2 separate regions of the Homo sapiens genome follow, and region 2 is linked to region 1. The links come from fine-mapping of genetic effects on gene expression. A gene starts in region 1. The other region holds a variant in brackets. All regions are shown on one strand. Distances are between the middles of the regions.

Region 1 (8,297 bases):
TACAGGCGCCTGCCACCACGCCCAGCTAATTTTTTGTATTTTTAGTAGAGACAGGGTTTCACTGTGTTAGCCAGGATGGCCTCGATCTCCTGACCTCGTGATCTGCCCGCCCTGGCCTCCCAAAGTGCTGGGATTATAGGCATGAGCCACTGCGCCTGCCTCAAATCGTTTTTAAGTGCATGGTTCAGTGGCATAAGTACATTCATACTATTGTGCAACCATCACCACCATCTATCTCCAGAACTTTTTGCTATTCCACATTGAAACTCTGTACCCATCAAATAATAACTCCCATTCCATCTTCTCCTGGGCCCTGGCAATTACCACCCTACTTTCTGTCTACATGAATTTGACTATTCTAAGTACCTCATATAAGTGGCATCACAGAACATTTGTCTTTTTGTGTCTGGCTTCTTTCACTTAGCATAAGGTCTTAAGGTTCATCTGTGTTATAGCACGTATCAGAATATCCTTTATTTTTAAGGCTGAATAATATTCCGTCGTAGGTGTATACTGTATCTTGTTTATCAATGGACATTCGGGTTGTTTCCACCTTTTGGCTATTGGGAATAATGCTGCTATGAACATTGATGTAAACATATCTAATCAAGTCCCTGCTTTCAATTCTTTTGTGTATACACCCAGAAATTGAATTGCTAAATCAAATGGTAATTCTATGTTCAATTTTTGGGGGAACCATACTTGTATATCCTTAAACCTCTGTGTATCATAGAACCTCTCTGAACCTCATCTGTAAAACACGGATAATAACAGCAATGCCATTTCAGGGTGGTCTGAGAATTAATGCATATGAAGCCTTTGGCTCAAAGACTGGACACATTAATAAATGTTCACTAAATGTTTGCTTGATGTTTAATCTCTTCATCCTCTGAATTGAGGGACTCATACTAAAATAATTTCTAAAGTCACTCTCAGCTCCTAAACTCCATGATCCCATCATTAAATTATTTTCCTGTTGGGGATGCCAGGAGCTCTCAGATTGTATATTAGGGGAACACCCTCTTCATGATCCCCGCAAAAATCCACCCGTGCCAAGAAGGCCCAATTTTCCTAGCTTTCTCCTAGGAATTTGCCAACATATCCCAGTGTAATCTCACATCTCATTTTTCTTGCCACTCCTTCTCCCTTGCTTTCTTTCCATGTTTCCTTTCTCGGCTGGCTTTTCCTGCCCACTGAATATCTGCACTTCAAATTATCTTCCCTGGTTGCATTTATGTTCATTCCCCACAAGTTAATGTCTGTTGGAAGCAACACTTGTGAAGTTCTCCAGATTAAGTTTTCATTCCCAAGAGTCCCATATTTTAAATGAGGTTTTCCTCTTCGGCAGAATCACACTGGCAGAGCTACCGCAATTTGGTGAAGTCAGTGGAGTTGGGTTTCTCCCCTCATTCTGTTTATGTTGGGTTATCGCTTGGCCTCATGTTTGGATTCTCATCCTCCCAACATGTGTCACATGCCAGTGAGAAACAACACTCTCTGGTACCATCCCAGTGGATGTTTACAATTCAGCAAATACTCTTTTTAGAAAAGTTAATTAGAGGAAATACGCTTCCAAGCTTTTCTTGCCTGGGGCCAGATTCAGCATCCCAGCAGGGAGTGGACTTCCTTCACTCCTTGAGGAAATATTTTCCTTCTCCACGCTATTCCTCCGTCTTCCCTCGAAATGTGAGTAAAACATTCAACAACTAAAATATCCTTGCTAAACACATGAAGCTGCGCTCTGGTTCAGGCAGCAGTTTAGCTACCAACAAACTGCGTATCCTCTCTGAAGCTTTTTCACAGCCAAAGGTAAAAGAGGTTCTCGGGTCAGAAATAAATGGATTTTTCAGATTCTGGGCTAGGAAAAAGAGCCAGCTCAGGTTTTTTTATTTTCTTTTAAACTTTTATGGCTTTGAAGCGCCTCACCTGCCATGTAATAAAACAGGAAGCAGGGGAACGCTGATGTAACCCTGAGGAATCAAATCCACTGAGCCCTGGCACTCTGAGAAGAACCAGGTCCTCTGGAGCTGGTCCACCGACACCATGCAAAGGCGAAGATGAAGTAGGGAGGTGCCTTAATGCAAAGTCACCCACTTACCCCTAGGCAAGTGTTTAGGTTTATGGATTGTCAGCCCTTATGAAGGGCTCCTTCTTCCTTTATTATTGTCTTTGGGCTGCTCCAGACACCATGGAGGCAAAATTCAAATGAAACACTCACCATCTTTATTGTAAATCATTAAGGAAGATCCTACCTGGGCAGGCAGGCTCTAGGTAGATGGAAAGTATTGACCAAAATGAAGGGCAGGGGGGTTTGTGTATCTCAGCTTTTCGTTGATCATGAAGGGATGTGCCTATGGCTAAGTTTCCCTTCTACACAGGTTATTGCATTTAGTATCCTCCCCACCCGACCTGGCCTGTTTCATTCTCAGGCACTTGCCAGCTACTTGCAGCGGCAGAGCACCCAGCTCTCAGATAGAGTTCAGGTGACAGGTAACCAGCACAGAAGGGAAGCAGCGAAGGCTCGTACATAACCTGCCCCTATTCAGAGCTGCCCCGTTTGGTCATTTCTGTACATCTCGGCCTGCCCTCATCTCATGAGGTCTCACTTTACCCCCTGGGCCATAGAAGGACAGATGTTCCTATGACGTTCCCACTTCCCCGCCTGCCAGCAAGCAGGATCTGCCATGTCCTCGCTTCTGCCCTTAGCTGGATCTCCGTATCATGTCCCAGCCTCATTTGTCCCCAGAAGCCCATTTGACCTGGGGATTGTGGCTTAGAAAATGATATATGAAAACCAAAGAAGCCAGAGCTCTTTCAAAACAAACCCTATGCATCCCAGAAACAATCTGCACTTTTAACCTTGGCTTTTTCTTCTTTCTCACTCTCATCAGAAAGGAAGTGTGTCTATATATGCTGAGTGAGTCAATCTCCTGTGCTTGGATCTACTCCGAAGGGGTATGGCTGTAGGAGTTCGTGAAGCAAGATTCACCAGAAGAACACCAAGCAAGCCCTGCTCTTTATTCCTTTCTTTCTTTCCCTCTCTTCTTTCTTTCTTGCTCACCTCTGAGGGAGCCCTTTCCAAGAGAAACTTCGCTTTTGCAAGTCAGAGCGGGTAACTCAGAATTGATTCCCTAAGGCAATTTGGTACTTTTAAAATGATAAAAAGAGCAAATAAAATAGGAGCTGGTCCGCTTTCCTGAGACAGTACAGCCCCACGATTTGGGATGACAAAACCACGTCACAGTCTCAGGGAGGGCCACAGGAGCTCCAGCACCACCAGCCAAGTCCCTAAAATTATCACTGGAAAAGCACCACCCCCCCTCAACCCCTCACCCCAAACACACACAGCCCACCTCCTGAGACTCCCAGTCCTGCTCCCAGGCAGACCCCAGGAGGAAAATGCTCCCTCCTAGGGTGTCCTCCTAGGGTGTCCCGGACGCTACTCACAGTACCTCTTGGCAAGGACGAGATGAGAAGGAGCTGAAGAAAAGTGAGCCCCAACTGCGTCCAGCAACCCAGCTCCATCCTTGCCGCGGCTGGTGCCCGAGCGTCTACTGGGGAGGGAGAGGAGGGACCCAGGGAGGCCGGGGGCAGGCGGGTTTTACAGGGACCTCCCCGAGCCCCAGCTGAGCGGGAGCTCGGGTTTCAGCTCGCCAGGCTCTCCCATCCTCATCTGAGGGGAACCACCTTCAGCCAGAGCGACGTCAGCCCAAACCTCTCCTCTCTGCTGCCTTAACCCTTGCGGGGCCCCGGGAGGTGTGGCCACGCCTGGAGACCCGCGGACGGCGGCTGCAAAGGAAGCTGCGGGGGAGGGAGGCCAGCCTGGGTACAGGTGGGGTCCCAGTGTTGGGTGCTGGGAGGAGGGGCCATAGGACCCTGGGCGGGAGCAGAGGTACCCAGGGCTGCGGGGCGCTCAGGTGAGGCCGGGAGATCTTCCTACGGGAGGCTGAGACGGGAGCTGGCTTTGCCCTCTCTGACTGCACGCGGGGAGCCTGATTAAAAGCCTGGCCTGAGGAGAAGGAGGAGTTGGTGATGGGAGGAGAAAGGGAGCCTCCCTCCACTCCGCACGCAACACTCCTCGTTTATCTCCTTTCCTCTCCGTTTGCTCCAGGTGATCACAGGTTGGAAAGCTTATTATCTTTTGCAACTACAGGCTACTGGAAAAAGTTTTCCTCTTCCTATGATCCCCGTCATGGTGAATTCAGCGACATAAGCAGCTCCTGAGCTACTGGAAAAAGTTTTCCTCTTCCTGTGATCCCCACGATGGTGAATTCAGCAACATAAATAGCTCCTGCGCACACGCCAGGCAGGGATGGCGAAGAACACACAAGAACCCTCACTGCCTCCACCAAAAGGGCTCAGTTTAGGTACAAGATAGCAAGTGACATCTCGAAATGAGGAAGAAGGATGTTTCATAATAGGTGACTTTTTAAAATAAACTCCTCCGTGCCAGGTGTCATGTACCTTACATGTATTAACTCAATTATTCCTCACAATAAACCTAGCCTCTGTATTTTACAATTAGAGAAACGGAACCATTGAGGATTACAATAACTCATCCAAGGCCACACAGTTAGTGAGGGGCAGAGCCAGGGTTTGAACCCGGGCAGCTTAGGCCCACAGGCTATAGTCTTAGCCACTAGGCTATAGAGCTTCTTAGGATGCTACATATGCAGAATTGTATTTCACCATTTGATATGGCTTCGCTGTGTCCCCACCCAAACCTCATCTTGAATTGTGGTTCCCATAAACCCCACGTGTCATGGGAGGGACCAGGTGGAGATAATTGAATCATGGGGACAGTTACCCCCATAAAAGTTTTAATTTTGTTCTCTAGATGTTGGCGGGCCCTGGTGGTTTACAAGTAGGGTGTGCTGAGCTCAAAGCAAAGTCTCGGGAAGAGAAGTCACCCTGGACTATTGATGAAGGCCTGGAGTAAGGATTAAGAAATGGAAGTGGAAGGGAAAAGATAAGGGGAGAAACCTGAGGAAGGTAGAATCTGTAAAGCTCAGGACAGATCAGAAGGTCAGGAGCCCTGACACAGGTGCTCTACTAGAAAGAATTTCTGAACTCCAGCCCTGCTTCTGGGGGCCTATTGCAGTGAAGTGACTGGAAGCAAGAACTCAGCAGGCCTGTGTTCTAATTTTGTTGATTCACCACTTTCTGGCTGTGTGACCTTAAGCAAGTTAACTCTCTGAATCTCAGTCTTCTCATCTATAAAATGGAAATAATAATCAAACCTACTTTGTAGATCACTGGAAGAATTTAATAAGATTACGCATGTAAGGCCCATAGCACAGAGCCTACCACATATTAAGTGCACACTAAATATTAATCATTATCTCTATTATCTGACCTGAGACTGCCCCCAAGAACATCTCATGGTATGAGTCTTGTTCCTACACTCAACTTCCATATCGAGATGAAATCAGTTAAAATAAGCACCAAGAGTAGCCTTAAACAGGAGCAGAATACCAGAGGGCAGCATATACCTAAGAGGTAGAGGGCAGAGGTTCGAAGAAGGGAGGTTCACCTTGTTGCTGGCCAACCAGTCCTGGTCCTTTGGTGATGGGAGTGGGAAGAAGATGACTTAGTTCCCAAATAACTGTAGGCATAAGAGCCTCTCAGGAGTCTGTTTCAACTCCAGCTGACGGCACCTGAGCTTTACAGATTCTACCTTCCTCAGGTTTCTCCCCTTATCTTTTCCCTTCCACTTCCATTTCTTAATCTTTACTCCAGGCCTTCATCAATAGTCCAGGGTGACTTCTCTTCCCAAGACTTTGCTTCGAGCTCAGCACACCTTACTCCTAAACCACCAGGGCCCACCAACATCTAGAGAACAAAATGAAAACTTTTATGGGGGTAACTGTCCCCATGATTCAACTATCTCCACCTGGTCCTTCCCATGACACGTGGGGTTTCTTTTCATCTTCCCTCTCCCCACCTCCCAGCCCCCACCACACACACCTCTCTGAGTCAATACCAAGCAGCCTCATCCCTACATGAATTGCATCCCCCTGACAGAATGGGGCTCTAAGTGATGAACCTGAAGGATAGCAGTCTATACCACCCCCAAATATGCCCCTTTGGCATAAGGATTATTTTGAGCTGAAAGCAGTTAAGAAGAAGTAGATACAAGAATAGGTCTCTGTTCTCCCCCCATTTTCCTAAAAGCAGACTTGAATTTATAAAAGTATAGTGTCTCCACCTCCCCTCTCTACCAGGACGGACAGAAGTTAATCATTGGAGACAACCCTAGACCCTTATCAGCCCAGAGGAATCTACATACCAAAACTTACTAACTAGTCTTATCTCCCATTAGGACCCCCATTTATTTATCTTCCCATAATTTGCTACCCCTAGAAGCTCAAAGTCCTTTTTGTTTGTCTTGCCACTTCTCTGCAAATTTATTGTTCTTTTTAAAAATGCAATATGAACCCAAATTCTAACCATCTCTTTGAGTTACTCCTCACTAGGTATTTCAACATGTAAGCACCATGCACAAGTTAATAAAAAACTTTTGTTTGTTTTTCTCTTGTTAATCTGTTTTTTCTTTTTTTTGTCATTCTAATTTACAGGGCCACAGCCAAGGAATCTAAGATGGGTAGGGAAGAAAGATTATTTTTCCTTCCCAACAAACCTGTTTGGCTATTTGCTAAGGAAGTCCCTGGTACCAGGTCTTTACTTCTCTAGGTTCAGGGGTCTGGAAACAGAGGCCCTTCTTCTGTTTCTGGAATCCCCTTCAAGAGTTGATTTGTTAGTTTGTTGTCACTAATTTGGGTTTGTAAATTTCCTAGAGCTGAGGACCTGGAAAGAAACTCTCAAAAAGATGCTCTGCAAAGGTGGAGGATGTATTTTTCTGGAGAAGTCAAAGCAGTAATCAGATATTACCTTGTTGAACTGCACAATAATCCCAGGGCTGGAAGAGAAAGAGGAGAACTGTTATTATGACACAGAAAAGTCAGTAGTTTACTGAGGACATTCAGCCCTACACAAATTTCTGTTTTCCTACACAAGTTTACCTTTCTCTGTCCCCATTATGGTCAACTGCATTTTTCATATTGATAGAGTTTAGTATTGTTCTAAATCAAGGATTCTTAATCTGGAAGCTCCTGGTTGAGATGGGGTTTTTTGAGGGACTTTGAATCTTCCAAAATCATATGCAAATTTTTGCATGCAGGTTTTTGAATAAGAGGGAGCCATAGCCTTCTCATTTGCAAACTCCCAACTTTTTTAGAATCACTAATCTTCGTAAGTTAAAATTGAAAAATGGACCAAATATTTCTCAGATTTGGGGAAAGTGATTTTGTGAATATATACAATCATTGAGTCTAGGCTATAAACTGCACAGTGGACATTTGGAGGGCCCTCTCACCTCCTCCTCACCTTTAAAAAACTATTTCTGACTTAAGAGCACTTGCTCTGGACCATACTGACTAATGTTGAATGCAGATGGACCACTCGCTACCTGTGTACACTTGGGCATGTTATTTCACATATGATGGCCTTGGTTTCCTCATCTGTTAAGTCTGAAGAATAGTACCTGTTGCCATTAGGGCTAGAGTAAAGAGCTCAAAACAGTGCCTAAAATATACTAAGATATCAGTAAATGTTAACTGTTTCTGTGATGCTTATCTCCCCCTCTGCCCTCACCTCCTACCACTGCTTGCTTCGGGGAGAATAAATCACAAGAAAGGCTGTGTATGAAAAAGACAAAGTGGCATGCTGGGAGATAGGGCATGATACCTGGAATTAAGAATTATCTACTAATAATCAGCATCAGGAATAAAAAATTGGCTGTAATAGACAGAGTCAGGCCACCCATTTAATTACAAGTCATAATACCCACTAATTTTCACATGGTACCTTTTTCAGTGCCACCAGGGAGGCTGGTTGCATGTGAATCCACAGGGAGAAACAGCAGAGGAGACTGTCTTTGTGAATTCTTACAGTTCCCTCTATCTCCCAGCTATCACTTCTGCAGATCAGCAGCTAAGCAGCAACCACACACTGGGAAAGCCAGAGGAAACAGGCCAGAGGTAGAACTGGTCTGCAAACCTATAAGAGGCATCCCAGACTTCTGGTAATTAAGTTTGGTTTCCATCAGCTGTGCAAAACACCAAGTTCAAGTCAGCCAAGGCCAGAGATGGAGAAGGGCAGGATTGTGGAAAAGACAAAGGGCCCTTCCACTGGAGCCTGCTGTAACTGGCCCCTTCATGGAAGTCTCCAGCCCTAATGAATCCCGGCTGTTCACCTACACAATGAGCAATCATGTTCTGCCTCAGGTCTGGCTCAGC
Region 2 (8,337 bases), 67 kb after region 1:
TGGAGAGAAGGGGAAGATAGAAGGTGCTTTCCGTGGAGGGAGGAGCTGAGAAGAGGGCTGAAGAGAGGATGGGCAAGTGTGACAGTGTCCTGAATTCCCTCCCACAACCAAATCAAAACCCCTGGCTGGGCTGGGTGTGCGCATGCGCTAGGAACTTAAGGAAACTTTGGAGAAACCTAGCAAGACCATGGCTGGTGCTCTGCTTCCCCAGGTACAGCCTGGGAGAGCCACAGCCTGTGGGAAAAGTCTGCATTTCCAAAGGGTGCCGTGTACATCAGGTTTGGGTACTAATGGGCAGCATGGGCAGAAGTGGGTGCCTGTATAGCCAGGGCCTGAGATAGCCTCATTCTAGCCCACCCTAGCTCTCTCTTGGCTTCAGCAGAGCACAAAGAAGATCTGGAAAGTTCTCAGGGACCAATAAAAGGGATGGCGAAAGTAAAGAAGAATTAAGAATTGAGAAGCCTGCCTGCAAGTGCTCACTGAGACACAAGATGGGGAAACCCTGTAGCAGAAGCCACAGGGAGGTCTGGCCAGGTCTGGGGGTCTCAAGGAGCTTGTGACCATGTCTCAAAGGACCAGTATCACCAGCAAAATCTCAGGTGGCTGGAGTCAGCAGCAGAAGATGGCTGAAGTTGTATTCCATGGGCTGAGAGAACATTCACCAGGTCCACCAGGCTTCACATTGAGGCAAGGAAGGCTATTAAGGCCAGAAGCTGGGGCCCAGAGAACAGCAGCCCAGAGGACCACACACAGGTGCAGAACTCCTCCTCTCTGCTGTGAGGATATTTAAGGCTCTGCTTCCCTCCACTTCAGGTGCCATCTTGAAAAAGAGTAGAAAGCAACTTCTTGAAAAGAGAGAAACAGACTTGGTAGGAACCACTTCAGAATATTTGCCCAAAGGGAACTATTTTGAACTGGAAGAGACTGGGTTCTCTTTTATTGGCATGTCTATTTTTATTTGTGTTTTTCCCCCTACTTCTATGGGGGCTTCAGAGCAGAAGACAATCCATTACTAAAACAAAAGAAGCTCCTTTCTGGTTTTGCACACCTGAACTCTAGTGTGTAAAGCTTAGCCATAACAGAGGATTGAGAAGGGGAAGACTTTCTTGCCTCCATGCCTTGGAAGGAGAGGTGCTCTTCTCCCACCCTGCTGGGAGAGAGAAAGTCAGGGATGGCTCCAAGGATGCCAGCTACTTCTAGGATGTGACTCACTGTCCCTAAGGATACATCACTGTGATAACAAGCCAGAAATATGAGCATTGAGTTGCAGAAAGATGGCTTGAGTCCCTCCCTCCTCCTGATGCTATAGCAGGTTGCAGAAAGAACTGGGAGAGGCACCAGGGATCCTAGCTTATGGATGAAAGAGCTAAGCCAGGGAGTGGCCTCTCCCTGGTTGCTAAACCAACTGAGGGGCTCAACAGGGAGAGTGTGCCCTTGTCCCTGCTTTTGTCAGTTTCCTTACCTGTTACACTGAGACACTTTAGGAGTTGTTAGAGCTGAGGTTTTCAGAAGAGGTCCCAGGCTTGCCAAGTCGACAAGAGGAAAGATTGGAGGGTAGCCCATGGGAACCAATACTGCCTCTGCCATAGGTATGACACAGCTCAAAATCAGCTTGGAGAGCTCTCTGTGTCCAAGTGTGGTCCGGTTCTGCCTATTCTGTTGTCATCTTATATTACTCTTTTATCCCCTTAGACCTGTCACACTAGTCCATGGCTTTTCCAACCAGACCTATTATTTCTTGAGAATTATCTGAAAGTGAAAAGTTAGTTCTAATACTATCTCTTATAATGTACTTGCTAAAAATGCATCCCTAAAAACATGGAGCTTTCTACAATCTATCTATCTATCTATCTATCTATCTATCTATCTATCTATCTATCTATCTCTACCACCCTAGCTACTTCTGTTCTTACTAGCTACTGCTCAGACCCATGCAAGGACTTGAATCACAATTCCCCCCACGAATTCTGCAAATTTCATTTCTGTATGGTCATCACTCTTGTGTGCCTACAATGTGCAAGGCACAGTAGTAGACATTTGAAATATATCTTATTTAATCCTTACAATAGTCATGAGATGAGGGCAATCAGCCCCATTTTACAGAAGAAATGAAAACAGGAAAGGTTAGAAAGTGAGTAATTTGCAAAGGCAGGAGTCAAAAACATGGGTCTATCTTTAACCAAAGCCCATGCTCCTTCCATTATAATGCACTGCTTCCTTATTGCCTGCTCTTACCCCAAAGCTGCGTGTGGCCACACACCAATGCCTTCTCTCCATGCTGCTGCTGTTGCTTCTGCAGCTGCAAAATGAGAGCTCCCATGTAACCCTCTGATTTTTCACTGTCATTTTTGCGGAAAAATAACAACTTCTGGATTAAGTTCAGAACTGAACTGGACTTCACTAACTGGACTGAACTGAAAAAATCTCACTCTTCTTCAGAGACCCTTCATTTCTTGTTTCCATTATCAATTGCATCCACAACAATAGTGAAAACACGTCTGTTTATGTGTATGTGCAATATATATTCCTTTAGGTTGTCGACAAAAAGAAGACATAGAGAGAATTGAAATGTCTAAATGATTATATGACAGTTTATATTATGCCCCATTGCTGTCTCAGGAGAACTGTCCAAATATCAGTTACAGGGAGAAAATGACTTCACCAGAATGTAAATGCAAAACCAGCCAATGCTTTCCAGAATTTTGTCAACATATTTTAAACATCCTAATTATTGGACATATTACAGTTAGTCCATAAGGATGGCAAAGACCATTTTCCTTGTGCATCCTATTTCATCATTTATATTGGTAGAATGTGTACCTTCACTTTTAGAATAACGTCCCAGTTTTGTCCTTCCTGAACTTTTCCCTTCTTGTCACTGGTTATTTCTCTGTATCCTTCAGGTGGTTTTTGCTAAGTTCTTGAGGTATTACTTAATCGTGCCTTTCTGTCTTCCACGTTCTGAAGCAATTGAGAAGTATACAAAGGAATCAGAGGTCCTAATAATAGTGGTAATACTGGCTACCTGGTCTGGTGAATGGAAACTGTCCCTGTGATCTGAATGAGTTTTCTATTCCATACTGAGTTATACTTAGCCACCTTTTCATGGCCACAGCAGCTAAACAACTGGAAGCCTTTCCTCTTGAGGGCAGAGCTTGCCTTGGCAGACTCACCACATGAAAGAGGCAGGAACAGAAGGAAGAACCTATACCAGCTTCAGGCCATCTAACCTAAGAAAGGGAGCCACAGAGAGTATAACACTTAAAAAACCATTGCTGGCCAGGCACGGTGGCTCACGCCTGTAATCCCAGCACTTTGGGAGGCCAAGGCAGGTGGATCATGAGGTCAGGAGTTTGAGACCAGCCTGACCAACATGGTGAAACCCCATTTCTACTAAAAATACAAAAATTAGCTGGGCATGGTGATGCATGCCTGTAATCCCAGCTACTCAGGAGCCTGAGGCAGGAAAATCGCTTGAACCGGGGGGACAGAGGTTGCAGTGAGCCAAGATCGCACCACTGCACTCCCGCCAGGGTGACAGAGCAAGACTCCATCTCAAAACAACAACAGCACCAACAGCAAAAAAAAAAAAA[A/T]ATATATATATATATGTAATATATATATATAAATATTTATATTTATATATTTAGATAAAAAATATTTATATTTTATATATATATATATATATATATATATATATATATATATATATATAGCTACAAATGCCTCCCATCCCTGTATATATGCCCCCGGCAATGTGGGGTTGCTACTGTTCCCATCACTTGCCTTGGCCAATGGAAAGAAGCAGAATGATGTTAAGCAATTTCTGAGCCAAGGTCTAAGTCAAGCAACCTCTGCATTCTTTCTCAAAATTCACCTACCAAGTGAAGAAGCCCAGGCTAGCTAAACCAGTGGAATGGCCATGTGGATAAAAACCAAAGTGCCCCAGCTGACACTTCAGCCAACTGCTAGGCCTGTAAATTACATCATCCAGGATCAGGCAACACCAATCAACATGCCAAGTGACCACAAATATGTGAGTGAACCCAACAAACACCACAGAGAATGGAAATGAACAATCTCAGCTGAACCCTGCCCAAATCACCAGGCCACACCAGTCAGATAAGTCCCTCTGGTATAAGGCTAGACAAGCAATGTAGCTTTAATATTGTTTTCTACAGAATATGAGGCATGGGGTAATATCCCCACTCAAGAGTTACGAATTCTACTGCTGTCGTGTATGCCAATGCCTTCCATAGGCACTAGAAAGGCACTTTAACCATTGACCATTATTCAAGGATCCATTGAAAAGTAGAGTATATGTTTCCTATTGCTGCCATAACAGATTGCCACAAACTTGGCGGCTTAAAATGAAACAAATTGATTATGTTATATTTCTAGAGGTCAGAAGTCTGAAATGGGTTCACTGGGCTAACATCAAGGTGTCAGCAAGGACACCTTGCTTCCTTCTGGAGGCTCTGGGGGTAAATCCTTTCTCTTGTGATTTCCAGCTGCCAGAGGCTCCATATATCCCTTGACTTATGACACTCTTCCATCTTCAAAGCCAGCAATGGCCAGCTGAGTCTTTCTCAGCCACTCTGACTTTTCTACCTTCCTTTTCCACATTTAAGGACCCTTGTGATTACATTGATCCCATCTGGATAATCCAGGATGCTCTCTCTATTTTAAAGTCAGCCGATTAACAACCTTAATTTCGTCTCCAACCTGCATTTCCCTTTGCCATATAACATAACATATTCACAGGTTCCAGGGATTAGGTCAGGGCATCAGCAATAGGAAACATATACTCTACTTTTCAATGGATCCTTAAATAATGGTCAATGGTTAAAGTGCCTTTCTAGTGCCTATGGAAGGCATTAGCATACACGATAGCAGCAGAATTCATAACTTTGGGGTGTGAGGGCATTATCTTATCTACCACAAATAGTGATCTCAGAAAGAGTAGCATCATACTACTCAGGAAAAATTAACGCTCAGTTCTTTTTTTTTTTTTTAGACAGGGTCTCTCGTTCTGTCACCCAGGCTGAGTGCAGTGGTGCGATCACAGCTCACTGCAACCTCAACCTCCAGGACTCATGGGATCCTCCCACCTCAGCTTCCCAAGTAGCTGGCACTCCAGGCATGCGCCACTATGCCTAGCTAGTTTTTTATTTTTTGTAGAGACAGAATTTCACTATGTTGCCCAGGCTGGTCTTGAACTCCTGGACGCAAGCAATCCTCTTGCCTCAGCCGCCCAAGGTGCTGGGATTACAAGCATAAGCTGCTGCAGCCAGTTACACCCAGTTCTTTACTTCCACCTCGCCTAACAGTTTCTAAGTGCTCTAAAAGTAGGGATAATAAGAAGTCATATTTCATGGTATGTTTTGGAGTTGATAATATAAGACAGACATGGAACCTTGTTGAAAACAAAATACATTTTATCTCTTGCTTCACTCTAATAGCCCTGTGAAGGCCAAGTTGACAGACTGTCCAGCTTCCCTCTCAATCATGTTGCCTGGAGACTGTCACCAATGCAGGCCTCATTGAGAGAGAAGCAATGTGTCTCAATCTGTCAGATGCTACAAGATTTCTGAAGGCAACGGCAGGGAGAGCACTCAACTTCCTGTTTCCATCGGTCTACTGAGTGGTGGGAAAGAAGTAGTACAGCAGCCTCCCTTGCCAGAAGCCAGAGAAGGAGATGGATGGATTAAATAATACAGAACTCTTCTGCCTGCTTGGCCATTTTCTTCTTGTAATTGAATGCTAAAAAGATGACTTAAAAAAAGAACAATTTGTCCCACAAAGGTGCATGCATATCTGTTAAACGGTACAAGACACAAAGGGTCATCCCTACAAATGTGATGTGCATTCATTCACTCTAGGCCCCATACCTTTAAAAAGTGAGAGTGTCCTTTCCCTACTCTATGTTTTTGTTTGCTTTGTTGAAGATTAGTTGGCTATAAGTATTTGGGTTTATTTCTGAGTTCTCTATTCTGTTCCATTGGTCTATGTGCCTATTTTTATACCAGTACCGTGCTGTTTTGGTGATATAGCCTTATAATATAGTTTGAAATCTGGTAATGTGATGCCTCCAGACTTTTTCTTTTTACTTAGTCTTGCTTTGGCTATGCAGGCTCTTTTTTGTTTCCATGTGAATTTTAGGATTTTTTTTTTCCAGTTCTGTGAAGAATGATGGTGGTATTTTGAGGGAAATTGCATTGAATTTGTAGATGGCTTTTAGCAGTAAGGTCATTTTCACAGTATTGATTCTACCCATCTATGAGCATGGAATATGTTTTCATTTGTTTGTGTCATCTGTGATTTCTTTCAGCAGCGTTTTGTAGTTGTCCTTGTAGAGGTCTTTTACCTCCTCAGTTAAGTATAGTCCTAAGTATTTTACTTATTTATTTTTTTGCAACTACTGTAAAAGAGGTTGAGTTCTTGATTTGATTCTCAGCTTAGCCACTGTTGGTGTATAGCAGAGCAACTGATTTGTGTACATTAAGCATGTATCCTGAAGCTTTGCTGAATTCATTTATCAGTTCTAAGAGCTTTTTGGAGGAGTCTTTAGTGTTTTCTAAGTATACAATCATATCATCAGCAAACAGTGTACAGTTTGACTTCCTCTTTACTGATTTGGATGCCCTTTATTTCTTTCCCTTGTCTGATTGCTCTGGCTAGGACTTTCAGTACTATGTTGGATAGAAGTGGTCAGAGCGGGCACCCAGTCTTGTTTCACTTTTCAGAGGGAATGCTTTCAACTTTTCCCCATTCAGTATTATGGTGGCTGTGGGGTTGTCACAGATGGCTTTTATTACGTTGAGGTATGTCCCTTGTATGTCGATGTTGCTGAGGGTTTTAATCATAAAGGAATGCTGGATTTTGTCAAGTGCTTTCTCTGCATCTATTGAGATGATCATGTGATTTTTGTTTTTAATTCTGTTTATGTGGTGTATCACATTCATTGACTTGCGCATGTTAAACCATCCCTGCAACCCTGGTATGAAACCCATTTGATCATCGTAGATTATCTTTTTTGTATGCTGTTGGATTCGGTTAGCAGGTATTTTGCTAAGTATTTTTGCATCTATGTTCATCAGGAATATTGGTCTATAGTTTCTTTTTTTTGTTATGTCCTTTCCTGGTTTGGGTATTAGGGTGATACTGACTTCATAGAGTGATTTAGGGAGGATTACCTCTTTATCTTGTGGAATAGTGTCAACAGGATTGGTACCAAGTCTTCTCTGAATGTTTGGTAAAATTCAGCTGTGAATCTATCTGGTCCTGGACTCTGTTTTTGGCAATTTTTTAAATCACCATTTCAACCTCACTGCTTGTTATTTGTCTGTTCAGTGTGGTGCTGGGATAATTGGCAAGCCACATGTAGGAAAATGAAACTGGATCTTCATATCTCACCTTACACAAAAATCAATTCAAGATGGATCAAGGACTTAAATCTAAGACCTGAAACAGTAAAAATTCCAGAAAACCCCTTTTAGACATTGGCTTAGGCAAAGATTTCATGACCAGGAACCCAAAAGCAAATGCAACAAAAACAAAAATAAATAGGTGGGGCTTAATTAAAGAGCTTTTGCACAGTAAAAGAAACAGTCAGCAGAGTAAACAGACAACCCACAGAGTGGGAGAAAATCTTCACAATCTATACATCTGACAAAAGACTCTACAGGAATTTTACGAGGAATCTACGAGGAACTCAAACAAATCAGCAAGAAAAAACAAACAAACAATCCCATCAAAAAGTGGGCTAAGGACATGAATGGACAATTCTCAAAAGAAGATATGCAAATGGCCAACAAACATATGAAAAAATGCTCAGCATCACTAATGATCAGGGAAATGCAAATCAAAATCACAACGAAATACCACCTTACTCCTGCAAGAAGGACCATAATCAAAAAATTAAACAACAATAGATGTTGGCGTGGATGCTGCGAAAAGGTAACACTTCTTTTTTTTTTATTTCTTTTTTTTAAACAGAGTTTTGCTCTTGTTGCCCAGGCTGGAGGGCAATGGTGCAGTGTTGGCTCACTGCAACCTCCGCCTCCTGGGTTTAAGCAATTCTCCTGTCTCAGCCTCCCAAGTAGCTGGGACTACAGGCACCCACCACCACACGGGGTTAATTTTTGTATTTTTAGTAGAGATGGGGTTTCAGCAACACTGCTGATGGGAATGTAAACTAGTACAACCACTGTGGAAAACAATGTGGAGATTCCTTAAAGAACTAAAAATAGAACTACTCTTTGATCCAGCAATCCCATGACTGGGTATCTACCCAAAGGAAAAGAAGTCATTATACAAAAAAGATACTTGCACATGCAT

Direction of the effects. Positions count from the first base shown, and alleles are read on the strand shown. Sizes are in standard deviations (SD) of each study's normalised expression.
As copies of A replace T in region 2, the expression in damaged cartilage of the gene that starts at base 3,556 in region 1 goes down (large effect, 0.84 SD a copy in Steinberg 2020).

The links.
Region 2: its variant is fine-mapped to the expression of PAMR1 in damaged cartilage (Steinberg 2020, PIP 0.95).

What each region holds. Positions count from the first base shown.
Region 1 is chr11:35,522,061-35,530,357 of GRCh38, forward strand. It overlaps PAMR1 (peptidase domain containing associated with muscle regeneration 1), which reads right to left and starts at 3,556. Exons shown (of 11, transcript NM_001001991.3): 1 at 3,453-3,556. The coding sequence starts at 3,525.
Region 2 is chr11:35,589,351-35,597,687 of GRCh38, forward strand. No RefSeq gene overlaps it. Among named protein-coding and RNA genes, the nearest start is that of FJX1, 25 kb to the right of the region's middle. The variant A/T (reference allele first, on the strand shown) is at 3,594.